Linked DNA regions of Homo sapiens: all the other regions are linked to region 1. The links come from fine-mapping of genetic effects on gene expression. A gene starts in region 1. Each other region holds a variant in brackets. All regions are shown on one strand. Distances are from middle to middle.

Region 1 (4,472 bases):
AACCCCCAGGCTTGCTAATGCCCTTTGTGTAAAAAAAGCTGACCTAGCCTCCACCTGCATCAACTTGATCCGCTCAGCTTTGTCACACTCAGCAAACACCCTCTGCCTTCTGAGCAAAATAAATCGGCACCTCCAGTAGGGAGAAAAAAACTTTTTATGACCGAGTCTGGAGAAGCAGCCTTGACACCCAATTTACAAAGAACGAGCGTCTGCGGAAGACCTTGCATCTAGACTCGGCTGCAGTGCCAAACCTACCTTATGCAAAAAAGCTCCACAAGTGGTGGTGTTCTGTTTAAAGGAAAATGCCAAACACACACAAATACTGAAACAATAGCATAAGGACTTCCATAACCATCATCCAGCTTCAACTATTTTTATTTTTGTTTTACTTTAAGTTCTGGGATACAGGTGCTGAATGTGCAGGTTTGTTAATAGGTATACATGTGCCATGGTGTTTTGCTGCACCTATCAACCCGTCATCTAGGTTTTAAGCCCTGCATGCATTAGGTATTTGTCCTAGTGCTCTCCCTCCCCTTTCCCCCCACCCTCCGACAGGCCCCCGTGCCTGAAGTTCCCCTGCCTGTGTCCATGTGTTCTTCCCAGCTTCAACTATTAACAATCCATGAACAATCTCCTCTCATCTTGTTCCCCTCCCTTCTCTGCTAGCATCTAAAACTGAATAATTCTGAAGCAAATCCCAAAGCTGTATTTCAACTTCAGTCTGTGTCTCTACAGGGATTTTAAAAACCTTAATCAGGATACCGTTACCAAAAGTAACTAAACAGAACTATTATAATTTCCTTGATACCATCAAATAATCAGTAGAAATGTCCTTCATCGTCTCCTTATTTATTTATTTATTTTGAGACGGAGTCTCGCTCTGCCTCCCAGGCTGGAGTGCAGTGGCGCCATCTCGGCTTACTGCAACCTCCGCCTCCCGGGTTCAAGCGATTCTCCTACCTCAGCCTTCCCGAGTAGCCGGGATTACAGGCGCGTGTCACCACACCCAGCTAATTTTTGTATTTTTAGTAGAGAAGGGTTTCACCATGTTGGCCAGGCTGGTCTCGAACCCCTGACCTCAGGTGATCCACCCACCTCGGCCTCCCAAAGTGCTGGGATTACAGGTGTGAGCCACCGCACTCGGGCATCATCTCCATTTTAAAAAACATTCATCAAATCAGGATCCAACCAACGTCCACACCTTGTATTGCCACCGAATTTCTCTTAAATCGTTTTGAAACTGCACACAGGTCCTCCTCCCTGCAATTCGCATAGCAACCAAGCTGATCCTCACTGACAATTTCCAAATAACTATAATAACTCTATTCTGGAGATATCACAAGTGCCGGTCTTAGAGCTTGTCAAATGTATACATATATGTTTATATTTATATATAAATGCACAAAAGCACACAAGAAACCATTTCACTCGAAGCAATAACAATCCTGAGAGCTAAACACTCGTTCATGTCTTTTGTGATGCTTCTCGGTGGGGGTTATCTCTGGGATTTAAGCGACACTTCCCCTTACCGGAGACATTTGCGCAAGTGTAGGACGAAGCGAGAGCGGTTCCTTCCAGCCGAACCTGCCTCCGGAGGCCCGGTCCGTGCGTTCGTCTCCGGACTGCAGGGGGCGGCCCTGCCACCACCTCGAGGCCACCTGCGCAGGTGAGAAAAGGAGTTTCAGTCTCCGGGTTCCTGGGGGTGGTCGCAGGTAATCTAGAGGGAATTTTGAGCCAGCCAGGATGGTCATCCAGGAACCTACCCGGACGCAACGGCCTCGGAAAACAAATAGCCGGGCAAGGCCCTGGGGCTTAATCCCAGTGGCGGGCGCGGGCGGGGGCGCCGTCCCCAACGCTCGAGGCCAGGGGAGGGGAGGCAAAGTCGGCCCCAATGAATGCACGCACGCGCGCGCGCGCGCGTGTGTGTGAGACTATTCACCTCTGGGCGCCAGGAAAGAGCGAAGAGTTGCATACACCCATTTCTATAACCTTGCTGGGTTTGTCATGTTTAAAAAGCATCTCCCCTGGAGAGAGGGTGGCGAGTCTCTGGGTGCGGGACACGCCCATTCCCCAGACCCCCTGCCCTCAAACCCACGACAGACCCCAGTTGCTAAGGCTCCGCGGTAATCCCCATCCCGAAGCAGGAAGGCTCGGGCGTCCGGGCTCCACTCCTGGATCTCTTAAGTAGCAGAGAACCCCCAGCCCCTGAGTTCCTGCAAAGGAAATTCCTTCCCCTCCCAGGCGCGCTGAACGCCCGGCCAGGGAGGCTGGGAGCGGCGCGGGGACCGTTCGCCGCCCCGAGGCTGGGACGCCGGTGGCGAGAGCGCCGGGCGCCCTCCACCTGCGCCCGCACTCACCCGAGGATCGATGGCTGTCGGCTCCGCAAGGTTGAGGCCCCGACACCTGCAGCGCCCGTGCCCAGGTGACCGCCCGAGGGAGGGGCGAGGGCCCAGCTCGCCCGCCTGGTCCCGCCCCGCCCCGCCCCGCCCCGCGCGCTCCCGGGAGGGGCAGGGGAGCACGGCCCCGGGACCCCGCGGCGACCCTGCTGTGGCTCAGCCGGCTCCAGACCAGGAAATGCGGGCGTCAGAGACGGGCAACCTTTGAGCGCGCACGTCCCGTCCGGGCCCAACGAAACAAGGGCCGGAGGGCGCCGCCTGCCGGCGGGACGGAAAGATATCACAGAGACTGTCACCCCCCGCCGGCTAGGAGAGGGCTGAGTTGAGGCTGGCAGAGGGACGCAGCCAGGGGTGCGCAGTGCGGGAGCCGCTTGGGGGCTCAGTGAGACCCCCTTCCTCATGCCACATCTTGAGGACCCGGCCCCTGTCCTAGGAGCTCCCCATCTCCCCAGCAGGCGGGCGAGCGGGGGCCACTGGGTCAGGGCCTCTCCTTCCCTTACCTCTGCAAATGTAAACTTGGCAGTTGTCTCCAGATAAGAGTTTACACAGGGTGGCCAGGCGGTGGCTCATGCCTGTAATCCTAGCACTTTGGGAGGTCAAGGTGGGCGGATCACTTGAGGTCAGGAGTTTGAGACCAGCCTGGCCAACATGGTCCACGTTGGTCCCCATGTCTACTAAAAATACAAAAATTAGCCGGGCTTGGTGGCACGCACCTGTAATCCCAGCTATTTGGGAAGCTGAGGCACGAGAATCGCTTGAACCCAGGAGGCGGAGGTTGCAGTGAGCTAAGACCGCACCACTGCACTCCAGCCTGGGCAGCAACAGCAAGACTCCGTATCAAAAAAAAAAAAAAAAAAAAAAAAAAAAAAAAAAAAGAGTATACACAGGGTGACAGAACTTCTTGAAACTTGTATGCTTCTAAGCAACCGCCTGCAGTGTACTGTGAATTCAGATTTTTAAATAAAAATCTGCAAATATTAAATAGCCCATATATTGCATTGCCTTTTTTGTGTCAACAGTGCTAATTTGTTGTCATTCAACAAATATTTGTTGAGCACCTACGACTTGCCGGTCATTTAAACATTTAAAATATCGAACAATTAGGCCAGCGCAGTGGCTCAAGCCTGTAATCCCAGCACTTTGGGAGGCCGAGGCGGGTGGATCACTTGAGGTCACGAGTTCAAGACCAGCCTGGCCAACATGGTGAAACCCTGCCTCTACTAAAAATACAAAAATTAGTTGGGCGTAATGGCACATGCCTGTAGTCCCAGCTACTTGGGAGGCTGAGGCAGGAGAATGACTTGAACCCAGGAGGCAGAGGTTGCAGTGAACCAAGATCACGCCATTACACTCCAGCCTGGGCAACAGAGACAGACTTCATCTGAAACAAATAAAATAAAATAAAATATTGCACAATTTCTTCCTTCTCCTCTTCACGCAGAGCCTTGAACAAGGGGAGTGTCCTGAGCCTCTCAACCTCTCTGAGTGTCATAGCAGTTAGAGATTAAAGATGACCATGTCCATACACGTTTGTATCTCTCCACAATGTCAGTCTTTTTTTTTTTTTAAATGCTATTTCAATCACAAAATCCAGGAGCTACATGGAGTTCCCAAGGAGGCAATTCTCCTTAGTCCTTCCCATTCACTCTGTAGTCAGAGCACATAGGTTCAAGCCACTCCATAAGTCAGTAAATATTGCAAACCATACATACTAGTATACTTAATCACTATACGAATGTTGTAGATTAAACATTCCACAACAAAGTAATATTTAACATCAAGACGAAGAAGAGGAGAAAGGGTTAATGAACCAGTCCAAAGGGAGGGAAGAAGACAAAGGGAGTCCTGGTCTGGGCCTGGTGGTCTTGCAAGGAAGAGTCTTTGATGTGGCAGAGCTTTCGGTGGCAAATTCTGAGTTCTTATCATGAGTGACTGCAAGACGGTGTTAGTGAAGACAGCCAAGCTGAAGGCTTCGCTCTTTTACAGTCAGAGGGTCCTCTGGTGAGAACTTATAGTGGATGAGTGTGCTTGTTTGTGTTCTTTTTTAAAATTTGTTCGTCAAGCAAAACATCTTAT
Region 2 (4,472 bases), 65 kb after region 1:
CTCACTGCAACCTCTGCCTCCTGAGTTCAAGTGACTCTCCTGCCTCAGCCTCCCAAGTAGCTGGTATTACAGGTGCCTGCCACCATGCCCAGCTAATTTTTGTATTTTTAGTAGAGACAGGGTTTCGCCACGTTGGCTAGGGTGGTCTTGAACTCCTGACCTCAAGTGATCCGCCAGCCTAGGCCTCCCAAAGTGCTGGGATTACAGGCGTGAGCCATCGTCACCGGCCTATAGTCTCTTTTTATAAGCCACAAAACAGTAATTAAAAAGATAAGATGTTGCTAATAGTGAGTATCCAAATGTCAAAGTAAGTAGAAACAAGTGTCATAAATAAATGTTAAAATAACAGCCAAAGATATGTATCCTGAACAATGGACAACAGATCGCAGAAGGAGTTCTCAAATTAATCAATGACAGCTGCCCCCAATGTGGTAGCCATAAGAACTACTGACACAATGACAATTTGTATTCTCTTTCCTTTCCCCCTGTGGCTGCAGATACCAGACACTCCTGGGACTGTCTTTCTCATCTTCTCTTCTCCAGTAAGGGTGAGGCAAAAATGAAAAATGCAAAAAGAGTTATTACTATCTCATTTGAAGAGGTGATTAATGGAAGTGCACTGACAAAGAGTCGTTTTGGAAAGGCCGTTTTAATCCTTCTCTGCTTTCTTTCTTCTATATCTTTTCCCAAATTTTCTATTATTTTCTTCATTGTTTCTCATTCCCCATCTTCCCTTTATTCCCTTTCATTCTGAACTTCTTTGACAATTCCTCCTGTGAATTTATTTTCCCTACTCACGTACTGAAGAAAATGAAGGCAGTCTATCTTTGTATACATCTTATGTATAAACTTTCAAAAGCTGTCTTATTGCTGTAAGCTATTGAAACAAATGCACTGTACTTAATTACTGTCTATAATTGCATGCTTAAGCACAATACACAGAACATTCAGTATTTCCAGCAACATATAATCTAAATGTGAATGATTTCAGGAAGGGCTGCTTCATTAAAGAATAAAATGACAAATAATAGTAAAAAATAATCTGGCAAGAATCTAAGATGCTAAGAATTAATGCTAAAGACAGCTGTTTCAAGCAAAAAAAATCTAATGATGCAAAATAGAAAAAAGAATCTATCCAACTTATCTATGTTGGGTTTTTCCAAAGTTAAGAGAAGTCTGAATTAAGTTATGTTTGAGGAAAATAAAGAACAACCAACAAACCTACGTTTCAGCTTTAACTTTATCCCAAAAAGGAATAATTTGTTAGATGAAGTGGAAGTTTTTGTTTTGGTTACTGAGTCTCCTGGCAGGTACATCTCTCATTTCTTCCTTTGTATTTCGCAAGTCCTCTACTTCCAGTAGCCCAATTACCTGTGTAAGATCATACCAGTGTACAATTCCTACAGTCTGCAACTACCAGCTGTGGGCTATTTGTGGCAATAAAAATTAAGAGCCCAAATCACTCAACCCAAAAGAAGGCTACTATAAAAACCAAGTATTTATGAAATTAAAACTTTTATATATGAAAATACGTATCACAAAAAGTAGATTTTTTTTTTTTTTTTGAGACGCAGTCTTGCTCTGTCTCCCAGGCTGGAGTGCAATGGTGCTATCTCATCTCACTGCAACCCCCACCTCCTGAGTTCCAGCGATTCTCATGCCTCAGCCTCCCGAGTAGCTGGGATTACAGGTGCCCACCACCATGTCCGGCTAATTTTTTGTATTTTTTGTAGGGATGGGATTTTACCATGTTAGCCAGGCTGGTCTCGAATTCCTGACCTCAGATAATCTGCATGCCTCAGTCTCCCAAAGTCTTGGGATTACAGGCGTAAGCCACCACGCCCAGCAAAAAACTGGAACCTTAAAAAATGGCAAATTCAAAATTTAACACTCCAAGTTCAGGAACAACTACAAGATTCATAATGATTTATTTGAGGCCTGACTGCAAAATATACTTTCTGATATAATAAAAGGCAAAAATTCCTAATTAAAATTTTTGAAACCATGCTAAAATATATTAATATATGTTAGTATCAGGCATATTAAATGATAGTATTTAATTATGTTTGTAAAATACACTACACTTCGCAGAGCCTCAATTAGTAAATAATAGTCTATATATCCATACATCTGAAAAAGTAATACTATAAAAGTTGAATACTATAAATGGTTTATAGAAACCAATTCTATTATATAATCACACCACACATGCTCAATTTTTTCCTCATCTGATACATCTGTTGTCAACTTAAAATCGATCTAATTAAATAACTTGTTACTGGGAGGTGCTTGATTAAAAATTGTGGGGGAGAAGTCTGAATAAATGTGACCTGTTCTTCCAGACTTACAGAGTACTCACCCTATCATCTTTGGATGCTACAGTTAACAGCAAAGATTTGTAAGGCATGATATGTACACTCTGTTACATAACTGTTAGAAGCAGTAATTATTATTTCCCAAAAAGAGGGGCAGAAAAAATATTTTTGAAATACACAGAGTAGGATGGGTTGGGTGGCTCATGCCTGTAATCCCAGTACTTTGGGTGGCTGAGGCAGGCAGACTGCTTGAGCCCAGGAAACCAGGCTTGAGACCAGCCTGGGCAACATGGTGAAACTCCTTCTCTACATAAAAAAAAAAAAAAAAAAAA[G/AAG]ATAGAAAAAGGTGCTACACATGTGTAGTTCCAGCTACTCAGGAGGCTGAGGTAGGAAGACCACCTGAGCCCTGGTAGGTTGAGGCTGCAGTGAACCAAGATCATGCCACTGCACTCCAGCCTTGGCAACAAAGTGAAAGCACCCAAATTAGGAGTGAGATTATCAATGTGGATGGGAACACTGGAAGAGGAAGATAAAGTTTGAAAGATGAACAAGTTTTGGGTAAACTGACTGAAAAGCCATAAATATTGTGGCTGAGAATGACACAAAATTTGGCTCTAGTAGAGACAAGCTAGGAAGTACTGGGAGATTAAGTGTGTAAAAGCAGAATAGTCATCAAGGTAGGCAAGGAAATTTCTACTTTACCCTGTAAGCAGCAGAAAGACCACTAGTAGTTTCTTAATAGGACATAACTAGAAAAATGATTTAGACATGATTTTGGTGGCTGTGTGTAGGATGAACTGGAAAAAAATGCATAAGGCAGGGAAATGGATGGAAGACTACTGTAATATTCAAGTAAATTGTAGTGTGATACTGGACTATAAATGGGAAAGAAATTTAGATATCTGAAACATTTCAAATGTAGAACACATAGAACTCAATGATAAAGGATAAATAAAATGGCTAGGTAAAGATGTCAGATTTCCAACTTTATCAACAGAAAGGAAATGTGGAAGGAAAGTAATTGTAGAGAATGACCATATCAAATTTAGGCATGATACAAATATACTCATACTAACACTCAGTTATACCATTCCTGAATACAGACATAAATATACTAATCTACTGACTGCTGATAGAGGCATCACATGTAAAACCTGATTAAATATTAGGGTACATAAAAAATTGAGAAGCTGATTACATATTACGCAATAGGGAACCTGATATGTATGCACAAAATTTAAAAATCTCATTCTAACAATTAATTTCAAGTTCACCAAACTCTTCTAAAACTGCACCCTGTCCTTTGTAAAGGCACTATCAAGAGGCAATGAAAGGAAGAGACCAGAAAACACGGACTTGGATAATCTCTCCCAACTAGACACAGAATTAACTTGTTTACTGATACTTTCTTAAAGTATTGCAATTTATTAACTTATAATAACTTATCCATATTGTAGACTGCCTTCAATGCAACAATATAATTTGTGCCATTGCTTTGGCGTTGAAGCCAGAAAGATAGATTGCTGTAGAAGAGTACCATGAGAGGCAGGGCTCAGTGGCTCATCCCTGTAATCCCCACCACTTTGGGAGGCCGAGGTGGATCGCATGAGACCAGGAGTTTAAGACCAGCCTAGGTAACTTTCTGATACTCCATCTCTACAAAAAATTAAAAAAAATTAGCTAGGTGAGGTGGTGCACACACTTGTAGTCCCAGCTAGTTGGGAGGTTGTGGCCAGAGGATCACTTGAGACCAGGAGTTTGAGTCTCTAGTGAGCTATGATGCCATCACTGCATTCCAGCCTGGGCACCACAGTGAGACCTTGTCTCTTTAAAAAAAAAAAAAAAAAGTACCATGAGAACATGAACAGATAGTTGGGATTACAAGCACAAGCCACCACATCCAACGTGCATGCAGTCTTCACTTTCACTGTTCTCCTGATGCAGCATAAGAAGGTATAAAAGTTTTACCTTCTTTTTGTTTATACATTGGACTACAGTACCTCCCCCTCTTTGTTCTCTTTTGATGTAAACAGAATATTTTTATAATTTTCCTAGAAGACTTCTAACAAAGTGAAGGCCTTTTGGGAATAGTAGCACCCACTAATAAAGAGAAACCAACCTATCAATCTTCAAACAAATGGAGAGAACTTCTTAGTTCAA
Region 3 (4,000 bases), 120 kb before region 1:
AATTGCCTGAGATTGAGTTATAGTAGAGTTTCTAATCCTGACCCCAGTGATGAGATTCTTTGGTTGCCCATTATAGCAAATATGTGTATTGTCCAACATTGTGCTGCTTGCTCTGGTGGTACATGTAAGTCAAAGTTTCTTCCCTCAGGGAGTATGCATTTGAAGAACTATGCTTAGATATATCAAACAGTAAATAATATAATAGTACTAATCAAGTGGTAAATGTCATAGGAGTTAACAGAAGAGAGATCTTTGAGGATTGTATTATAGTAGCTGAGGAACGCTAAACTTTTAAAACAGGTAGAGTTTGCAGACAAGAGGTCTCACCGTGAGATCATGATCCTGAGACAGCAGAGGTTAGATTTAGGGATTCATTACTATGTGGGATTCTATGTTAGTCTTCCACATTCCTGAGGACAGTCTATGCCAGTACTTTTTTATTGAGTGCCTACTTGGTGTCAGGTGCCAAGGATTGAAAGTGAACAAAGGTTTTAGAGTATAATGAGGATACAGACAAGTAAATAGTCAAAGGACAGTATGATAAGAATTTTGTTTTGCTGGAGTATCTTATAACTTTCTTTTAAAGGCTATGTGGAAGAAAAACTAAATCTTTGTGGGCTTGAAAATTACCTCTTTTTATAATTATCTTTACATGAATTCTGTATTGAAAATATTTTTTCTGAGGAAATTTGAAAGCAAAGATTACTTTTTTCAAAATTTTAGTATTGCTGAAGAAAAGGCTGTTGTTAGTTCCATTATCATTCTTCTGGGGTAACTGCCTGTTTTTTCTTTCCAGAATCTTTGAGATATGCCTGTTTGCTTTAGTTTTTTATTTTGTAGTTTCATGGCAATGTGTCTAGATGTCATTGTGTAGGACACCTGTTGGGCCCTCTTAGTGTGAAACTAGGTTTTTAATGATCATGTATGTGAAACTAAACAAATCTGCAAGAAGTTAATTTTGTTCTTTAATGATCATATATGTGAAACTGAACAAATCCACGAGAAATTAATTTTCTGTTTTCTCTTTCTGGAGCTCTTGGTTGAATGTTGACCTTTCTGGATTGATCCTTTATCTTGTTTACCTTTTCACTTACTGCCTTTTTTTGTGTGTGGGATATTTCCTTAACTTTTTCTTTTAGCCCTTTCTTTGACTTTTAAAAAATTTTTAGTTCAGCCACTATTTATAATTTCTCAGAGCATTTTCTTGTTTTCTCATTGTTCTTTCAAACTAATATTCCGTTTTTCTATTATGGATAAAATACTTTGGATCTCTGTTATGCTATTTATCAGATTTTTTTTTTTTTTTTTTTTTTTGAGACCGAGTCTCGCTCTGTCTTCCAGGCTGGAGTGCAGTGGCGTGATCTCGGCTCACTGCAAGCTCCGCCTCCCAGGTTCACGCCCGTTCTCCTGCCTCAGCCTCCTGAATAGCTGGGACTGCAGGCGCCTGCCACCACGCCCTGCTAATTTTTTGTATTTTTAGTGGATACGCGGTTTCACCATGTTAGCCAGGATGGTCTCGATCTCCTGACCTTGTGATCTGCCCGCCTTGGCCTCCCAAAGTGCTGGGATTACAGGTGTGAGCCACCACGCCCGGCCCAGATTTTATTTTACTTTTATTTTCACTTTTTTTTTTTTTTT[C/TC]AAGACAGGTTCTCACTTTGTTGTCCATGCTGGAGTGCAGTGGTGCTAATATGGCTTATTGCAACTGCCACCTCCCAGGCTCAAGTGATCCTCCCTGCTCAGCCCTTCAAGTAGCTGAGATTATAGTCGTGTGCCACCACACCTGACTAATTTTTGTATTTTCTGTAGTGTCAAAGTCTTGCCATGTTGCCCAGGCTGGTCTCGAACTCCTGAGCTCAAGTGATCCACCTGCTTTGGCCTCCCAGAGTGCTGGGGTTACAGGTGTGAGCCACTGTGCCTGGCCTATCAGGTTTTTTTTTTTCTTTTTTTGAAATTTTTCTTTTTTGAGATGGAGTCTCACTCTGTGGCCTAGGCTTGAGTGCAGTGGTGTGGTCTTGGCTCACTGCAACCTCTGCCAGCCAGGTTCAAGCGATTTCTCCTGCCTCAGCCTCCCAAGTAGCTGGGATTACAGGTGCCTGCCACTATGTCCAGCTAATTTTTTGTATTTTTAGTGGAGATGGGGTTTCACCATGTTGGCAGGCTGGTTTCGAACTTCTGACCTCGTGATTCGCCTGCCTCGATTTTTTGTTGAGATGGAGTCTCTGTCACCCAGGCTGGAGTGCAGTGGCACAATCTTGGCTCACCATGCCTGGCCCGCATTGAGTATTTAATTAAGGATCACATTGAATATTTAATTAAGGATCACATACTGCATTGAAGACTCTTTTTTCTTTTTAATATAAAAATAGACTTCATTTTTTTTCTTTCATGACGTTTGAAGAGCTCAGGTCAGCTTACCTTATGGAATTTCCAATAGTCTAGATTTGTGTGATTGTTTTCTCAATCCTTTTTTACTGTATTAATTGCTATTTCAGTGGGGTTTAGTAGGAGGGATAAGCAAATGGTTTGTTTCTTTATTGTCTTCTTTATTTATTGGTTGTAAATATGATTTTTAATGAGTATATAATGTTCTACCATTTTTAAAAACTACTTTTCTCTTGCTGGTGGTTTTAATTTTTCTGTCTTTTTGCTAATATAAGTAAACCTGCATTGACTATTTTATTATATATATTTGTATATATTTTTAGTTATTATTTTCTTCTTAAAAATTTCCTGAGAGTATATTCAGTGGGTCAGTGAGATTGTTTTTAGATCAAGAACCTTAAAACTGTTCAGTTTTCTCAAAAATGTCCAAATCACATCAGCCACATATCAGAGTCCATTTGATATATTTATACTATATAGGGGATGTAAATTTACCTGAGAGAAAATCATTTGCTTATAATCAGTCATTCTCAGTGTTCTACTGCTAGTGTCCTCATCCTCTATTATCTCATTCAGGGAATTTTTTTAGGCTTCAGAACTCATTGTTTTTAAGGATTCTTTAAAATATAATTTTAAGTGATTGGGTGTAGAAGCCTTTTCCAAAACCTAATACTAGTGTGAGATAAAACTGTAGCCTGAATATTTGTATGGTCACAAGCAGCTTTACTGCATTTTTGTAAAATATTCCAACAGTACAGAAAAAGTAAAAAAGGTATTAAGTTCCCTAAAGCCTCTTTTCCCTTTCAGTCCGTCTGTCTTCTTAGTTGGTTCCATACCCCTCCACATCTTATCCTATGTATTATGGACATATATGTCATAGAGAAGTGTGCATATATGCATTTAGCACTCTTTTTTACACATTGTAAACACAGGTATTCTGCATTTTGTTTTTTTCCCTTAACAGTGTGTCTTGAGATCTTTTTATGTTTGCAGACAGAGATCAATCTCACTTAAGCTGCTGTGTGGGGTTGCACTGTGTGAATGGATTTTATTTTATATAACCATCGCTGTTGCTGGACATTTTAAATTATTTCCAATATGATAATTGTTCTGACATTGCAAGTTTTCTTTCTAGGATGCCAAAATCTGAAAACATTGGGAGACTGTGAGGTTTTTTATGTTTGTTTTATTTTCACCAGCTTGTATTGCAGAAAGTAGAAGTAATGTTTTTCTAAAATAAATAGGATAGGTATTTTATTTCTTTGATTTATTAAAAAACACGTAGTCTCAGCAGGGTACGGTGGCTCACACCTGTAATCCCAGCATTTTGGGAGGCCGAGGTGCGTGGATCACGAGGTCAGGAGTTCAAGACCAGCCTGACCAACATGGTGAAACCCCGTTACTATTAAAAATGCAAAAATTAGCCAGGCATGGTAGCAAGCCCTGTAATCCCAGCTACTCAGGAGGCTGAGGCAGGAGAATCACTTGAACCCAGGAGGCGGAGTTTGCAGTGAGCCAAGATGGCGCCACTGCACTCCAGCCTGGGTGACAGAGTGAGACTCCATCTCAAAAAAAAAACCATGTAGTCTCTTAAAAAGAAAATTCTTCATGGATAGCT
Region 4 (4,000 bases), 86 kb before region 1:
AAAAAAAAAAAAATATATATATATATATATATATATACATATGGAGCATAATACTTTGAAAACTAAAGCCAAAAATATTTTGTTGCTTCCTGCACTTCTACCTTAAAACATTTTTGGAAGTTTAAAAAATGATATTAATAACTTTCTCTGCTATCACTGATATGGTTATAATGCTTGCTATGGATGTTTCCATGTTACCTTTCTAAATATTTTTTAATCTTTTACCTTTCTTTGAGTAACATAGCTCTTTAATAATTTATTAAGCTTGTTTTTTTATTACCTTTGACCAAATGTGTTATTTTTTCCATTCAAACACATTTCTTCACAGGTTATATTTTTCTGGTTGTTTCAAACACTTAAAGGTAGAAAGATGTATTTTTTAAGAGATGTGGAAATTTGAAAGATAAGGGTGAATTTTCAAAGTAAAATCAGTATGTTTTTTAAGATACTTAAGAATTAAAGTTTTTTGTTGACATTTGGATATAAGTATGTTGAGGGTAGATAATTTAGAACTAATAAACAAATATTCCTCAGTTTATTTAGGAAAGGGAAACAGATGGGAATATTGGACTTTATTGAGGTAAGTTTGGCAGTCTTTGTTATTTTTAGAATAGTTATAGTTATGAGCTAAACAGTAATTGTGATGTGCAGTTTCCTAATGATCTTGTGAGTGAGCAAAACCTCCACTTTGCTTTTTTCAACATTTTAATTGTTGAACATTTAGATTTGTTAATGCTGATTGTGCCAGATGTCTGTGACAGATTTGTTTTTGCCTACTTCTTTTATTCATGCACTTATTTCGCCTTTATATGAGAGTTCTGGAAGTACATATAGTTAGCTTTAAGTATAATGAGTGGAAAGTATTTTACAGTATTTGATGGATTATTTCAAAATATGCTATTTGTGTTATGGCTCTTTTCATTCTTTAAACTCTTGTTTTTAAAAATCAGAATTCTATGTATGATCAAGCTTTGATTTCTTAAAAGATACTCTAGCAGATGTTTGAATAACATGTAACTGCATTAGGATTAAAGAGAGTTTCAGCATTTTAAGCAAAGATCATGTTCTTTGGAAGAAAAGTACTATCTATTATACTGAAGGAATGCTACATAGATAAAATTGAACTGGTCGATAAAACCATACTTGTTTAATTATCTCTGAATTAACATCTCTGACACTAAGGCAAATTAAAGTATTCACTGTGACAGCACTTGCCCTTGGGGACTAGATTTTTTTTCTTAACCCCCCAGACACTTTTTAGAATGATTTTACCTATATTGGGCATTATCATCATTTAAAAAACTGTTATTATCATGAACCGATCTAGTATAATTGTTGCTCCGAACAATAACAAATGACTGCTTTCACGTCTGAGATTCAGGCATGAGGCACAGAATCTCTCTTAGTGTAACTGGTTTCCAGGTGCAGGGTTGTGAGCAAATAACTTTAAAAAATGTTGCCTACTTTGTAGCTGATTCAGATCACAGTTCTGAATTTTATATTTGGTATAATATTATGTTTGATATAAAATTATCCAGTAACAGTAGAATTTTAAAGTTGTACAAAAGACAAAAGAAGATGTTTTATTCTTAGTGGAGCCTTGGAAAGATTTTTATTTTATTTTATTTTATTTTTGATTGTCACCTATTGTTACCTTTATAACTTACTGTTATATCCTTATAGGTGAAACTTGATTGTCCCTT[T/C]TACAACACATGGGTTTTGCTGGTTTCAGAAATCCTGATCACTTTTATGTATAATTTTATATACTTTAAAACATCAGACTTTTAAAATAGTTTGATTAAAAATGTACACAATATTAGATGTTGCTGAAAGGTTTCTTGTGAATGTTGAAAGTTTGTTTGTTAACATTTGTGGGGCTAGGTGTGCAGTGGCTCATGCCTATAATCCCAGCACTTTGAGAGGCCAAGGCAGGAGGATCACTTGAGCCCAGGAGTTTGAGACCAGCCTGGGCAACATAGTGAGACCTCATCTCTACAAAAAACATTTTAAAATGAGCTGGGTGTGTTAGTGAACACCTGTGGTCCCAGCTACTCAGGAGGCTGAGCTTGGAGGTCAAGGCTGAGTGAGCCATAATGGAGCCACTGCACTCCAGCCTGGGCAGCAGAGTGAGACCCTTTCTCAAAAAACACTTTTTTAATGGGAAGATTAGTCAGTATGGTTAAATAAGATTTTAAAAACTCATAATTTTTGTAAACTTAAGTAATAAGCTTTATAGATAAAAGAAGGGAAATGAACTCTTATGGCTTTATTTTTAGTAATCATTTTTCATAAATAATGGTTAAGTAAATAATAAATGATAACAAATTAAATTAAAATACCCATGTCAACCTCTAGAAGTGTTCTTTGAAATGGAAACATTAATAATAAGGTATTGGCCGGGTGCGGTGGCTCACGCCTGTAATCCCAGCACTTTGGGAGGCCAAGGCAGGTGGATCACGAGGTCAAGAGATCAAGACCATCATGGCCAACCTGGTGAAACCCTGTCTCTACTAAAAAGTACAAAAAATTAGCTGGGCATGGTGGCACGCGCCTGTAGTCCCAGCTACTCGGGGTGGCTGAGCCAGGAGAATCGCTTGAACCCAGGAGGCAGAGATTGCAGTGAGCTGAGATCGCACCACTGCACTCCAGCCTGGCAACAGAGCGAGACTCTGTCAAAAAAAAAAGTATTTCTAGTTACATAGCTCCTTCTCAGGGTGCCTTCGATTCCATTTTCCTTTTTCTTTTTTTTGAGATGGAGTCTCACTCTGTTACCCAGGCTGGAGTGCAATGGCCTGATCTTGGCTCACTGCAACCTCTGCCTCCCAGGTTCAAGTGATGTTCTTGATTCAGCCTCCCAAGTAGCTGGAACTACAGGCGCCCGCCACCATGCCTGGCTAATTTTTTGTATTTTTTTAAGTAGAGGTAGGGTTTCACCATGTTGGCCAGGCTGTTGTGGAACTCCTGACCTCCGGTGATCCACCCACCTCAGCCTCCCAGAGTGCTGGATTGCAGGCACGAGCCACTGCACCTGGCCCCATTTTCCTTCTTAAGTATAATCTTTACAATTGGATAACAAGGTGGTTAAGTTATAGACTTAAAAACTTTCTCCCATAAGTATGGAACATTATAAAAAGAGTAAAAAAATAAGGTGTCAAAGAGCTTAGGCTGTGTGTGTGTGTGTGTGTATGCATTTCAAGGAAAGATATTTTCTGTTTGCATATTATATATAAAGAGTCATTAGATTGTTGAGTAGAACAGAAAAGGAGAGATATAATTGCGTATCTTTTTTTGTAGATTCTCAGATGTTACTTTTTATAATTTAATCTTTAAATTACATAATAATAAGGAAGAGCCTGGGATAGAATCCTACATGTCCTAATATAGTGTGTCATTGTAGGAATTCGCTTAGTGTGCTTATGAAAAATGTTAGTATCTGTTTTGATTCATGACAGTTAGAAGTTAACAAAAACAGTTGAATTCCCAAAATCGTTATTTTATTTGTATTTTTTAATTATCGAAATAAAAAATATTTTCAGACTTGACTACCATCTTTTTGGAAACCTTGGTGATTTTTGGTCTAGATACTGATCCACAGCTTGCTTTCAGTCAAATATTATGAAGAAATATGAAAAACTTCATTCGAGCAATTTTTAAGTTTTCCTTTCAGTCTGTTAGAGTAGTCATTTTTGCCTTGTTTTTAAATTTAATACACATAGAATTTAATTTTCTGAAATTAAGAACACCTGATAAAATATAGTTTTGGAAACATTTTAAGGCAGTATGGTTTGTCATTGCAGGTTTATCAGGTAGAAGATGTGTGTGAAGAAGAAATGCCAGAAGAGTCAGATGAATGTGTCCGGATGGATAGAACCCCACCACCACCCACTTTGTCTCCAGCAGCTATAACAGTGGGGAGAGGAGAAGATTTGACTTCTGAACATCCTTTGTTAGGTGAGAAAATACCAAAATTTGTGGGAATTTTTCTATTTGATAAATGTTA
Region 5 (4,472 bases), 310 kb before region 1:
TGATTCTCTGTTCAGAGTAAAATTTGACTGGATGCATTAACAAATCAAAATAAATGTATCCTTCAAAAGGCATAATTCGTCAGCAGGGTTACAAAATTATCTCAGTTGTGGAGATTAAAGAATCAGCCTCAATGTATTCAGAAAGTAAATCAGGTGTTTACCTTCCCTTATTCTGAATTTTTTTTTTTTTTTTTGAGATGGAGTTTCGCTCTTGTTGCCCAGGCTGGAGCGCAAGGGCACAGTCTCGGCTCCCCGCAACCTCCACCTCCTGGGTTCAAGCAATTCTCCTGCCTCAGCCTCCCGAGTAGCTGGGATTACAGGGATGCACCACCACGCCTGGCTAATTTTGTATTTTTTTAGTAGAGATGGTTTTTCTCCATGTTGGTCAGGCTGGTCTCAAATTCCTGATGTCAGGTGATCCACCCACCTCAGCCTCCCAAAGTACTGGCATTACAGGTGTGAGCCACTGCACCCAGCTGATTTTTTACCCATGAAATAAGCTTGTGATTATAATGGGGCACTCAAACCATTTGCACCTGGAGTTCTGTGCCAGTGTAAATGCTCCAGTTCCTTTTCTAACTGTAAACCCATGTATGGCATGTTGGTTGTGTGCTTCCAATGCTGTACGTTTAGTTAAGATGAGTCTGCTCATCACAGACCAGATCAATCTTGTTTGTTGACAAAATCGGGTATCTGAACCTTCAAGGCAAAGAGCCAGGTTCTAATTAACCCAGATAACCTTGGTCTGGCCAGGTCTCTGGCAGACAGCAAGATGACCTCCCTACCAACTCCCTGACCTGTTCCAGGAACATATCTTCAAAATATTATTTTCTAAGTAGGATCAGGAGAAACTGTGGAGATCCTTAATGGATTCTGCCATGGCCTAATAAGAACAGAGAACCAGAGGGGTTAGATACGGAAGACTATGAGACAGATGGGTTAATCTAAAGGATGATAGCAGGAAAATGAGAGGGCCAGCAGCATTCTTACCTAGGAAGTACTACTGGGCACTTCAGAATTGAATATCCCCATAAGAAAGTTGTTTGATGAGACCCAGAACTGACTTACTGAAATGAAGAGTAGCACAACCAGTGTTTTTAAATAGGAAACTTTTCATCTTGACTTCTCCTTTTTTTTTTTTTTTTTTTTTTTTTTTTGAGACAGAGTCTTGCTCTATCGTTCAGGCTGGAGTGCAGTGGCGCGATCTTGGCTTACTGCAACCTCCAACTCTCAGATTCAAGAGATTCTCCCACCTCAGCCTCCCAAGTAGCTGGGACTACAGGCACATGCCATCACGCCCGGCTAATTTTTTGTATATTTAGTAGAGACGGGGTTTCACCATGTTAGCCAGGATGGCCTCAATCTCCTGACCTAGTGATCTGCCCACCTCAGCCTCCCAAAGTGCTAGGATTACAGGTGTAAGCCACCGTGCCCAGCCTCATGTTGACTTCTTACTACCCAAAAAGTACCCATCAAAGCACCAGAGCAATTTTTCTGAAAGTGGGATTTGCCAAGTGCCTGCACCAGAATCATCTAAGGAGCCTGTTAAAAATATGGGTTCTTGGGCCCTAGAACTACCAAATTAGAATATTAGGGATCAGAATGCAGGAATCTTCCTCCTTTAACCCTTTTTTTTTTTTTGAGACAGTTTCACTCCATCACACAGGCTGTAATGCAATGGCTCGATCTTGGCTCACTGCAACCTCCACCTCCTAGGTACTAGCAATTCTTCTGCCTCAGCCTCCCAAGTAGTTGGAATTGTAGACGCGCACCACCATGGCTGGCTAATTTTTGTATTTTTAGTAGAGACGGGGTTTCGCCATGTTGGCCAAGCTGGTCTTGAACTCCTGACTTCAGGGTGACCCGCCCACCTCCGCCTCCCAAAGTGCTGGGATTACAGGCCTGAGCCACTGTGCCCGGCTTTCTTCCTTTAATCTCTATTAAGCAAGCTCCCAAGTGCTTCTCTGTCCTCTCAAGTTTAAGATGCTCTATACCAAGTGAAGGGAAGTATACAGAAAAAGTAGAGGGAACAGTTCCCCTACCCAAAGGGTGACCAAGGGACAATGGTGGCAGCAG[G/C]GTCACTCAGATTGGCCACTCAGGCAGGCAGGACAAAAGTGTAATGCAGACTTTCCTAAGAGAAGGAACAGGCCCGACTGTCCAAGATAGGCCCGCTGCTCCACCACCTTGAAAGTAGTTTTTTAAATGCTCTTTAGCAAAATTGGCATAATTAAGTAAAAGGAGCACTCTGGAATTCTCTCTCTGTTTCTCTCTCTCTCTCTCTCTCTCTCTGGGCAACATGGCAAGACCCCGTCTCTACTAAAAATACAAAAAAATAGCCTAGCATAGTGCTGCACACCTGTGGTCCCAGCTACTCAGAGGCTGAGGTGGGAGGATTGCCTGAGCCTGGGAGACAGAGGTTGCAATGGTCCAAGATGGCACCACTGCACTCCAGCCTGGGTGACAGAGCAAGACCCTATCTCAAAAAAAAAAAAAAAAAGAAAAGAAAAGAAGAAAAAGAAAAAAATGTCAGGCCGGGCGCCGTGGCTCACGCCTGTAATCCCAGCACTTTGGGAGGCCGAGGCGAGCAGATCACGAGGTCAGGAGATCGAAACATGGTGAAACCCGGTCTCTACTAAAAATACAAAAAATTAGCCGGGCATGGTGGCGGATGCCTGTAGTCCCAGCTACTGGGGAGGCTGAGGCAGGAGAATCGGTGAATCCGGGAGGTGGAGGTTGCAGTGAGCCGAGATCATGCCACTGCACTCCAGCCTGGGTGACACAGTGAGACTCCGTCTCAAAAAAAAAAAAAAATTTCAAATCCTTTGACTCAACAATTATTCCAAGAAATGTATCCTAACAAAGAGAGTGGAAAAAATGCTAAAAGATGTATAACAAATATGTGCATCAACGGCATTTACCATAACAAAAAATTAGAAACTTTCTAATTGAATTATTTCAATCATGATGCATGCAACTCCTCCATCCTCTTCTAACAGAAACCATCTCACTCACTTACTCTGGCCTTAGGGTATTCTCTGAGCAAAGGATGGTTGCTGAATGAGTCAGGAGCAGGGACCAGAACCATAGTCTAACCAAAAACCTAGACTTAGCCTGACCCAAAAAGCCCAGCCCAGAGGGTTAATACTGATTAATTAGGCCAATTAGACTTTCTCTTTTTATAATTTAACAGGAAAAGACGGAGTTAGTTAGCCAAGTGGAATTTATGCATTTTCCCTTATAAATGAGTTATATATTAAGTTATATATTAAAACCTCAGGCAGTAAAATGATTATTTGCAAATATGCCTAATGTATTAAAGTTATTTTCCAGAAAAAAATGTTAACAACACTGTTGTTTTATTCATTAATGTTTCAACCACTTCCCAGTTAAATTAGTTACGGTAGGTGGTCAACATATTCTTTCAATTGACAGCAGGGGAAATAAGTGTTGATACTATTCTCACGAAGTTAACTATCCTGGATTTAAAGCTTACTAGAATTGGCCTCTGTGGGAAATAAATATTGGCTCTGTTGCCAAAATCAGAGACTGGATTTCTAATGAATAGGTTTCTTTTGCACAGGTAATATAGATTTTAAAGAAACCACATGGTCTCATTAAAGGTTAATGTAAATGTGAAATTACTACCCTGAAGTTCCATCAACCACTTTGTCAATTTTTAGATAAACCAGTTTCTCAAATAAAGCTCTATATAATACCTTTATTTAATGATTATTATTTTTTATTTATTTATTTTTGAGGAATTTCACTCTTGTTGCCCAGGCTGGATGCAATGGCGCCATCTCGGCTCACCGCAACCTCCGCCTCCTGGGTTCAAGCGATTCTCTTGCCTCAGCCTCCCGAGTAGCTGGGATTACAGGCATGCGCCACTACGCCCAACTAATTTTGTGTTTTTAGTAGAGATGGGGTTTCTCCATGTTGATCAGGCTGGTCTTGAACTCCAGACCTCAGATGATCTGCCCGCCTCAGCCTCCCAAAGTGCTGGGATTACAGGTGTGAGCCACCACGCCCGGTCTATAATATTTTTTAAATGTGCTTTAGTCAGCTTCTCCTGAATGGACAAAGGCCAGGCCTTCAGTATTCAATATTTAAATATTTTACACATTCTAAAATACATATTAATAAAATAAATACTGCATTTTACGAAAGTGGAGAACAACATGCTAATAAATGTTGCAAAATTATTTAGTTGTAAACAATCATCCACACTGATGCAGACTTCTGAGGCCATTCACTAAATACATACGTATTGCAGAGATCATGGTGGGCCATAATAAATAGGAAGTAAGAGTCCAGTCTCCTGCAGGCCTCTGTGACCTCACCAGCAGCATCACACCTGCTTAGATATTCAGCTGAGATCTCTACCTAAACTGGAAGATCTTCTTATGTTGCCTCTCCAGGTTTGGCTTCTTGCTTCAGAAAATGATACCAATCATAATCTCTGCTCCATCTAT
Region 6 (4,472 bases), 180 kb before region 1:
AAAACTTAAAGTATAATAATAAAAAAAAAAGTCCTTACATCAAATCAATACAACATTTAGGGGCTCAGATTTTCTTTGAAATCAAAACAAGAGAGGTAGTTTGAGAGTTTGCTATCTTCACTGATCCTCTCAGGAATGTAAAAGTATGCATTAAAATTTCAACCTAGCACTGCTTGAGTTTTTTAAAGCAATTTACTTCTACCTGGACAAGCAGTAAGGCAAGCCAAAGTAGCTGGGTTTTCTGTGACTTCTCAGTCTCCAACCTTTATGGTCACACTAACATTTCACGTTTCTAATGCTCCTAAACATAATTATCTCAAAAAAAAATTCAAACCACAACTGAATTTAAAGGAAGGGGGGCACTTTGCGTCACTGATAGAAAATGATTTAACACAATGAACTTAGAACTGGGTTTTTTCTTGTAACCATAGTAAGGGAGTGAAGATCAGAGAATTTAAAACTGTAACTAGGCTAGTCTCCTCACCTTGCAGTATCTCACCCTATCGGGTAGTCGTTGAAACAACACTGAGAAAGAAAGGCTCACAAAATTTTGATTTACACACATGCAACTTAATCTTGACGACACGTAAGTACCCACTGCACGTCCCTGAAAACGCATCGACTTGATTCTTAAATACAACCCCTATGTCTAATATACTGGCAGTGCAGATACACTACGTGAACACAACGGGGATGGAGGTATATCTCAGAGAACCAGAGGCGTTAGGCCTGCTGGTAATCAAAACGGACAGCTAACTGAAGAAGTCCCGTTTTCTATCCCCACAGCAAACTGAGTTAACTAAGGCATCACTTGGAATCCTCAACTCGCAACCCCAAATACACCCAGACTTAAGGATGCAAGGCCCCTACAAAGCTCTCAGGAGGCGAGTCTCTCGTCCACACCAGGTGCACCTACTCTAACCCTAGCTTCCTTCTCGGACCCTACTCTGGCCCCTCGGCTCCCCGCACCGCCATACCTGGGGGCGCCCCCAGTACTGCATCCCCTTGCTTCGCCCCCACCCCTATCACTTCGTCACTCACCCTGAGTCACCGGAGCCGCCCGCCCGCCCAGCCCAATCCGCCCACAACACCTCCAGCCCCTCACCCTCCCCTCCTCCAGGCCGAGTGGAGCCGGCCTGTCCCCTCCCGCCCACCGCCCTGTCCCAGGACACTCACCCGCGGTAGTAGGCTTTCACCCGGACCTGGTGGGAATGGTCCCCGCTGCCGCCGCCTGCGACCGTGTGGGACATGGTGCTGCTGTCCCTCTGGGTCGGCATCTCCTCACTCCCCCGCCTCAACGCTGGAGGCCGGGGGTGCGGGGGGGCGCTTCGGGCGCCGTGGGGGACTCCGCCGCCTGCGCTTGCCGGAGAACCGCGGCCGTCCGCCCACCTACCTGCCCACCTCGCCCGCAGCGCCGACCCAAGGGTCGCCTCGCCGGAGCAGCCGGAACCGCGCGGCTCCTCCCACTGCCCGTAGGCGCCGCCGCCTCTACAGCCGCCCGGGCCCAAGACACCTCCTGCGTCGGTCCCTCCCACTTCGCTCGCTCCAAAGGCCCACATTCCGGGGTAGGGCGGGCGCAACCATCCAGCCAGCTCAAGGAGCCTCAATACCGGGCTGAACCATCCTTACGGGGGCAGAGAAAGGGGACAGAGGGAATGGGAGACGCTGATCATGGCATCAAACACGCCGAGAGGGGTGCTTTCACGCGAGCTGTGAAAGAGACAATGACCAGCTCTAGATCACTAAAGTCTCTTCCCTGCAGGGACAATGGTAGGGACAAATTCTACGACACCTCACCCTAGCCTCGCAACTTGGTCACGTCTGCGGTCGGCCGACTTGGCACCCGGGATAGATTTGCGTGCAGGTTTCTGGGATTTGGAGTCCTCATAGGATTCTGGGACTTGAGGTTCCTTGCGCGTAGGGTGCCGCGCCTTCCCGCTGGTGAAGTCTGTCTCTCCAGCGTGCTCCCTGGAGCTGTCGGGGTGGAAAACCTGGATCCAGCTTGGGCATCTGAAGGTCCTGGAAATGACTGGGCTTCCTCACGTTCTAGACTTTATTAACTGATGAAGTCTCCCTTCTTCTAATTGCATAAATCGTCTGAATTATACATGTCTTTTGGGGGAACAAGAATTTGGTTACCTGCTCAGCATAACCTCTTTTATGGAAATAATTTAATAACATATGTAACAAATATAATAAAGGAAGAAACTCAACCAGAAAATATGATGAAAAACCGATTTTTCTTCTTTGGGGGCCCCCATATCTAGGCCCTTGTAGACTGCCCTTGCATGGAACAAGAGCCCA[A/G]TGAATACTTACCCAATCAAGTCAGTCAATCCAAGAGCATTTCATTCTGTAAAAACTGGCTTACCAAAGATTAGAAAGAATCGTCCTTGGCCGGGCGCGGTGGCTCAAGCCTGTAATCCCAGCACTTTGGGAGGCCGAGGCGGGCGGATCACAAGGTCAGGAGATCGAGACCATCCTGGCTAACACGGTGAAACCCCGTCTCTACTAAAAACACAAAAAATTAGCCGGGCGTGGTGGCGGGCGCCTGTAGTCCCAGCTACTCGGGAGGCTAAGGCAGGAGAATGGCGTGAACCAGGGAGGCGGAGGTTGCAGTGAGCCAAGACTGTGCCACTGCACTCCAGCCTGGGCGACAGAGCAAGACTCTGTCTCAAAAAAAAAAAAAAAAAAAAAAAAAAAGAATCGCTCTTGTAACCTAGTCTTTGACTTTCCTAGGATCTTGGCTCTGACACATAATTTACACTGCAACTACAGGTAGCATGAATCCAGCCCCTGCAGCAGTCCTGGTGCTGAAAGAGTTGGAATAATCAAAGAAATAGCTTTCTTTACGATGATAAAATAGGCTTGGGGGACTGAGTCATCAGTTATGTGTGACACTTCAGCGTGGTACGACATCCTCCAACTGCTACAGACTTGGATTATATACTCTTACTAAAAATTCCCCTTGAGTCAGGCAAAGTGCTACATGCCTGTAGTCCCAGCCTTTGAGAGGCTGAGGCTGGAGGATCACTTGAGCCCAGGAGTTCAAGGCCAGCCTGAGCAACATGGTGAGACCCCATCTCTTAAACAAACAAAAAAATCCCATTGAAAAACTTGGTATCAGGTTTTTCAGTAATTGGAGACCTGCATCAGCAAGTTTAATACGGAGCGATTAATTATGGAATATATTATAAAATATACGGGCACCTGTAATCCCAGCTACTCCGGAGGCTGAGGCACGAGAATCGCTTAAACCCAGGAGGCAGAGGTTGCTGTGAGCCTCTGAGACTGCACCACTGCACTCCAGCGAGACTCCGTCCCTGGGCAACACAATGCACAGTGAGATCCCGTCTCATTTTTTTAAAAAAAGATAATTCACATGCCATACAACTTACTCATTTAAAGTGTAAAATTTGATAGTTTTAAGTATCTTCACAAAGTTTTGCAACCATCACCTCTACCTAAATCCAGAGTATTTTCAGCACCCTGAAAGTAACTGCATATCCATTAGCAGTTACTCCCCACTCTCCTCAACCTCTGGCAACCAATAATATATTTTCTGTTGCTATGAGTTTTTCTATTCTGAACATCGCTAGTAGCTGGGACTACAGGCATGTGCCACCACACCCTGCTAAATTTTGTGTTTTTTGTAGCGCCGGGGTTTTGCCATGTTGTCCAGGCTGGTCTCAATCTCCTGGACTGAAGCCATCTGCCTGCCTCAGCCTCCCAAAGTGCTGAGATTACAGGTGTAAGCCACCATACCCAGTGAAGGTTTCAGTTTTTTTTAATGTCCTTGCCAATACTTGGTTTTTTTCCCATCTTCTTTATCATAACCATCCTAGTGGTTGTGAAGTGGTATCTCATTACAGTTTTGATGTACATCTCCCTAATGACTAATGATGTTGGGTATGTTTTCGTGTTTTTATTGGCCATTTATATATCTTCTTGGAGAACTATCTATTCAGATCCTTTAATCATTTTTAAATTGGGTTGTCTTTTTTCATTGAGTTGTAAGAGTTCTCTCTTTTCTTTTTTTTTTCTTCAAGACAAGATCTTGCTCTGTTGCACAGACTGGAGTGCATGGCATGATCACAGCTCTCCAACTCCTGGGCTCAAGCGATCCTTCCACTTCAGCCTACTGAGTAGCTAGGCCCATAGGCATATGCCACCACACCCAGCTAATTTGTTTTTCTCGTTTTTGTAGAGACTAGGTCTTCCTATAATGTCAAGGCTGATCTTCAACTCCTGGGCTCAAGTGATCTTCCCACCTTGACTTCCCAAAGTGCTAAGATTATAGGTGTGAGCCACCATGCCTGGCCAGAGCTCTTTATATATTCTGGAAATACATCTCTTATTAGATTATTTGCAAATATTTTCTCCCACTCTGTGCATTATCTTTTCATTTTTTTAATCTTTTCATATTTTTGATGGTATTATTTGCAGCATAAAAATTTTTAATTTTCACGAGGTCT
Region 7 (4,472 bases), 150 kb after region 1:
AGGCAGGAGAATCGCTTGAACCAAGGAGGCGGAGGTTGCAGTGAGCTGAGATCACGCCATTGGACTCCAGCCTGGCAACAAAACAAGACTCTGTCTCAAAAATAAACAAATAAATAAATAAATAAAAAATAAATAAATAAATTGTGTTCACTCTCTAGGCTGTGTTCTGATGAACAGCTGGGATGTCCTCCCCACCCAACCCTATGAAATACTATATGCACAAATATTCATTCAGTGGACACTTAAAGACAACTACTATGTGCCCAGCAACTTTTAAGATTAAAAAAACAGGACAAGGGCCGGGCGCAGTGGCTCACGCATGTAATCCCAGCACTTTGGGAGGCCAAGGCAGGTGGATCTCCTGAGGTCAGGAGTTCAAGACCAGCCTGGCCAATATAGTGAAATCCCATCTCTACTAAAAATACAAAAAAAATTTAGCTAGGCGAGGTGGTGGGCACCTGTAATCCCAGCTACTCGGGAGACTGAGGCGGGAGAATCACTTGGACCTGGGAGGCGGAGGTTGCAGTGAGCCAAGATCGCGCCAATGCACTCCAGCCTGGGCAACAAGAGCGAAACTCTGTCTCAAAAAAAAAAATAAATACAATAAAAATAAAGAAAGATAAAATTTTGTTTAAAAACTCAGTCACAGCTGGGCACGGTGGCTCACGCCTGTAATCCCAGCACTTTGGGAGGCCGAGGTGGGTGGATCACTTGAGGTCAGGAGTTTGAGACCAGCCGGGCCAACATGGTGAAACCCTGTCTCTACTAAAAATAAAAATAATTAGCTGGGCATGGTGGCACATGCCTGTAATCTCAGCTACCCGGGAGGCTGAGGCAGGAGAATTGCTTGAACCTGGGAGGTGGAGGTTGCAGTGAGCCGAGGTCACGCCACGGCACTCCAGCCTGGGCGACAGAGTGAGACTCCGTCTCAAAAAAACGAACAAACAAAACCCCTAAAAACAACAACAACAACAACAACAACAAAAACTCAGCCACCTCCTTTTGTATATATATTTCACTGAAAAGAGTCATTGAACCTGATCCCCAGCATTGCTGCCTTGGCCCGTCCTCTAGATGTAAGGTGGGGTCCAGAGGAGGATGTGCCTTAGCAGATATTAGGAAACAGGGCACACAACAAGGTTTCATTTCTTTCAACAACACCTTATGGCTCCTGTATGAAATATTTAATTGAGAGCACTAAATGCTATAGGATTTCCCTTTCAGCAGTGGAAATCCTGCATAAGTCAATCATGAAGGTCATTACGGCCGCCTTTCCCTTTTTCTTGGCTTTTTCTCAGAGGCGAGATTGCAGCAGCAATTCATGGGTCCCTTCAAACTAATTTTGTTACTGGATTCCACTACAGCATTTGGAATTCTTGATTCTGAGAAACATTTTCTCTAGTGTGTGCCTTAGGAATACAAAGGAGGATGGCTGTTGGGCATAATAAGCCTTTAGAAAAATCTCTTATTATGAATAATTCCAGACATATACCAAAGGAGACAGAATGGAACAATAACCCTGAATGTACAAATTATGTAGCTACAACAATCAGAAAATTGTGCCCACTCTTGTTTCACCTATACCTTCTAAGACTACAAAAGGTACACCTTTCACCTTCCCCACACTGGAGTATATAGAAGCCAGTGACAGCAATGGTATTCTTTCATCCATAAATATTCTAGTAAGTGTTTCTAAAAGAGAAAGACATCAAAAAATTACCATAAAATTATGACCTAAAACTTTAACAATGTTTAATATTATCTGTTATCTGTAATCCCAGCGCTTTGGGAGGCGAGGTAGGTGGATCACCTGAGGTCAGGAGTTTGAGACCTAGCCTGGCCTACGTGGTGAAACCCCATACTCTACTAAAAATACAAAAATTAGCCGGGCGTGGTGGCATACGCCTGTAATCCCAGCCACTTGGGAGGCTGAGGCATGAGAGTTGCTTGAACC[C/T]GGGAGGCGGAGGTTGCAGTGAGCCGAGACTGCACCACTGCACTTCAGCCTGGGGGACAGAGTGAGACTTGGTCTCAAATAATAATAGTAATAATAATTACCTGTTATCCAGTGTTCAGATTTCCCTGACTGTCTTATAATTTTTTAAAAATTTGGTTTGTTTGAATGAGAATCCAAAAAAGGTCCACAAGCTGCATTTGGCTTACATGTCTTGAGTTTCTTTTAAGCTATAGGTTTTTTTCCTGCTTCTTTTGTCTTGAAATACATTTGCTTAATAAACAGATTATCTTTCCAGTTGAGCCTGCCACAGTCTGGTTTGGCTTATTGTACTCCATGGTGTTCCACAGGCCTCTGTATTTCCTAAAACTTGGTTATGAGATTTAGATGCTTGGTCTGATTCAGGTTTGAGTTTTTGGCAGAACAGTCTCATAGGTGGTGTTGGATCTTCCATCAGGAGGCACGTCATCTTCAGTTATTTCTCTTCTTGTGATGTTAGTGGCTACTGAAAGTCATAGCCTGTATCTTATTTAATTTGAGATTTGCCAGATGATGATATTCTATTATTCTTTGAGTATGTATGTGTGTGGAGAGGGAGTGAGGGAGAGGGAGTGAAATTTCCCTCATTAAGTATTTGGTATCCTAGGGTACAGCTCACACTAGAAAGTCAGGTTTCATGCTTGATTCTTTTCAGAATAATTAATTGGTTTATTAACATCCTTTAAAGATGACCAATGTGTTTATTTTAAAAATATTATTATGAATGTATCAATTTTAAATTTATTTAATATGTTTCAATCCATTGTATTAATGCTCAAATTATGCTGTCTTTGGCCACTTGGAGCTGTTTCAAGTTGGTTCTTGTGTCTCAGAAATAAGCTTTTTAATTGCTTCTGGGAAAAGGACATAGAAACCTTTTCCAGAACTTTTGCTCATAGAACAGTGGTATCCAAACTTTTTTGATTGGGAACTCTCATCAGAAAATATTTTTATACATGAATATCCTTTATATATTTTTAAACTTTATATATTTATGCACATGAACTGTGATTAAATGTGCTATGTATGTGATAAAACGCCCCCAAATAGAAATCTTAAATGATGAAATAAACAATGTTTTAGAAATGGTAGCCACGTAGGCGGTCACTGGATACAGCTCTCTCAACCAACACAAGAGAGTGGGGGCAGAATCTCAGCAATGGAAGAGACCCCCACCCCCCAGCCCCCGCAACTTTGCCTGGTGAGGAGCCAGGCATCATAGAAGAGACCGGTCTTTTGGCCTCTAGCACTGGGTCCTGGAGCGCCCAGCCTGGTTTCCTGCCAAGAGTTTGGCATGAGCACAGCAGAGATTCCTAAAGTGTCCTGGCCCCAGACCAGGTCCTTTCAACATCCAACAATCTGGTGAGCAGGCCCAAGTCGGGTAATGATTGTTCAGGAGACGAGGCACACAGGCTGGCCTCATAGGTGGGGAAATAGAATCATATACATCTTCTCTCTGAGAAGGAAACACCTGAAGTTAGAAAAGTGCAGCTTTTTAAAGAAGGGAGTCAGCTTTAATTTAGAAGAATTAATAAGGCAAATTTCTGAAAGTGCTTTTTCATCTATGCTAATAAACTAAGCTAAAGGATAAGCATGTTTATAACTTAGGGACTAAAGGATCTAAGTGATCTGGTTGAGACAATCTCTCAAAGACTCAAGTAAAGATTTTGCTCCATTACAAGTGGCAGATTTCCTCTGTTGTGTTTCTATGACTTTCACTTTAAAACATGAGGAAAATTGTCAAGTTGTTCTGATATCCACCTAAATTGCAAAGTTTTGTGCTTGCCAATAACTCTGAAATATGTTTAGAAAATTATGAAACATCAGAGAGGCTGGTATGAGACGTAATGGTGGTTTTTGCAAGAAACCTGTCATTATCTCTCTAATGTATGCAAACATAAAAATCAACTCTGATGTTTCCAACAAAAAAGTCTTTTGTTCTTGAAAACAATAAAAAATCAGAAGGCATTTCGCTTTCGAACTGGTGATGACAATTCCCTGCTTCTCTTTTGTAAATGTTTAAAAAGCAAATTTGAATAAAACCAAAATTTCTCTTCTGACAATTTCTAAGTTTAAACATGCAAACTTTCATCATTTGAATTTGCAATTGTATTACAGAAAGTTAAGAGCTGGAGGAAACTTAGTGGATAATCTTTAAGAGAAAGTAGAAAATTCTAAATGGTTCATCATCTGAAATTTTACCCTCAGGTAGTCATTTATTTGAATCAAGCACCGTTGACCCTATAAGAATGCAAATAGGCCTGGGAAGCAGAGCATCTTGTTGACAACGTTCTGTGTGAATTAGTAGTGTTTCTCCCCTGATTGGAAGGACCCAGGCAGGGACACTTTGCAACTTTTGGGTGACAGCCTCTTGAAATGATAGGAAATCATCTCAACTACCAATGTTATTTCTATGCTAGCATCTAAGCCCTGTTTTTGTGATGCCAAATACTTTTTACTAAGTACAAAATTTGAGCCAGGG

Alleles and levels. Alleles are on the strand shown, and positions count from the first base shown. SD is a standard deviation of normalised expression in the study named. Not every link is listed here.
With allele AAG in place of G in region 2, the expression in monocytes of the gene that starts at base 2,578 in region 1 is lower (moderate effect, 0.67 SD a copy in BLUEPRINT).

What was found. PIP is the estimated chance that this variant, and not a neighbour inherited with it, causes the effect.
Region 2: its variant is fine-mapped to the expression of GPR160 in monocytes (BLUEPRINT, PIP 0.95).
Region 3: its variant is fine-mapped to the expression of GPR160 in whole blood (INTERVAL, PIP 0.97).
Region 4: its variant is fine-mapped to the expression of GPR160 in whole blood (INTERVAL, PIP 0.97).
Region 5: its variant is fine-mapped to the expression of GPR160 in whole blood (INTERVAL, PIP above 0.99).
Region 6: its variant is fine-mapped to the expression of GPR160 in whole blood (TOPMed, PIP above 0.99).
Region 7: its variant is fine-mapped to the expression of GPR160 in whole blood (INTERVAL, PIP above 0.99).

The regions. Positions count from the first base shown.
Region 1 is chr3:170,036,101-170,040,572 of GRCh38, reverse strand. It overlaps GPR160 (G protein-coupled receptor 160), which reads right to left and starts at 2,578. Exons shown (of 4, transcript NM_014373.3): 1 at 2,358-2,578; 2 at 1,530-1,658. RefSeq lists silencers at 1,554-1,603, 1,764-1,813, 2,124-2,603 and an enhancer at 1,199-1,698.
Region 2 is chr3:169,970,756-169,975,227 of GRCh38, reverse strand. All of the region lies in intron 1 of SEC62 (SEC62 preprotein translocation factor), which reads right to left. Among named protein-coding and RNA genes, the nearest start is that of SEC62, 6.2 kb to the right of the region's middle. The variant G/AAG (reference allele first, on the strand shown) is at 2,648.
Region 3 is chr3:170,156,566-170,160,565 of GRCh38, reverse strand. All of the region lies in intron 4 of PHC3 (polyhomeotic homolog 3), which reads left to right. Among named protein-coding and RNA genes, the nearest start is that of PHC3, 23 kb to the left of the region's middle. The variant C/TC (reference allele first, on the strand shown) is at 1,639.
Region 4 is chr3:170,122,542-170,126,541 of GRCh38, reverse strand. It overlaps PHC3 (polyhomeotic homolog 3), which reads left to right. Exons shown (of 15, transcript NM_024947.4): 9 at 3,798-3,951. Among named protein-coding and RNA genes, the nearest start is that of PHC3, 57 kb to the left of the region's middle. The variant T/C (reference allele first, on the strand shown) is at 1,704.
Region 5 is chr3:170,345,523-170,349,994 of GRCh38, reverse strand. No RefSeq gene overlaps it. Among named protein-coding and RNA genes, the nearest start is that of SKIL, 10 kb to the left of the region's middle. The variant G/C (reference allele first, on the strand shown) is at 2,077.
Region 6 is chr3:170,219,475-170,223,946 of GRCh38, reverse strand. PRKCI (protein kinase C iota) reads right to left here and starts at 1,523. Exons shown (of 18, transcript NM_002740.6): 1 at 1,177-1,523. The coding sequence starts at 1,277. RefSeq lists a silencer at 1,163-1,452 and enhancers at 1,633-1,792, 1,803-1,862, 1,933-1,992. The variant A/G (reference allele first, on the strand shown) is at 2,305.
Region 7 is chr3:169,885,726-169,890,197 of GRCh38, reverse strand. No RefSeq gene overlaps it. Among named protein-coding and RNA genes, the nearest start is that of LRRC31, 18 kb to the right of the region's middle. The variant C/T (reference allele first, on the strand shown) is at 1,955.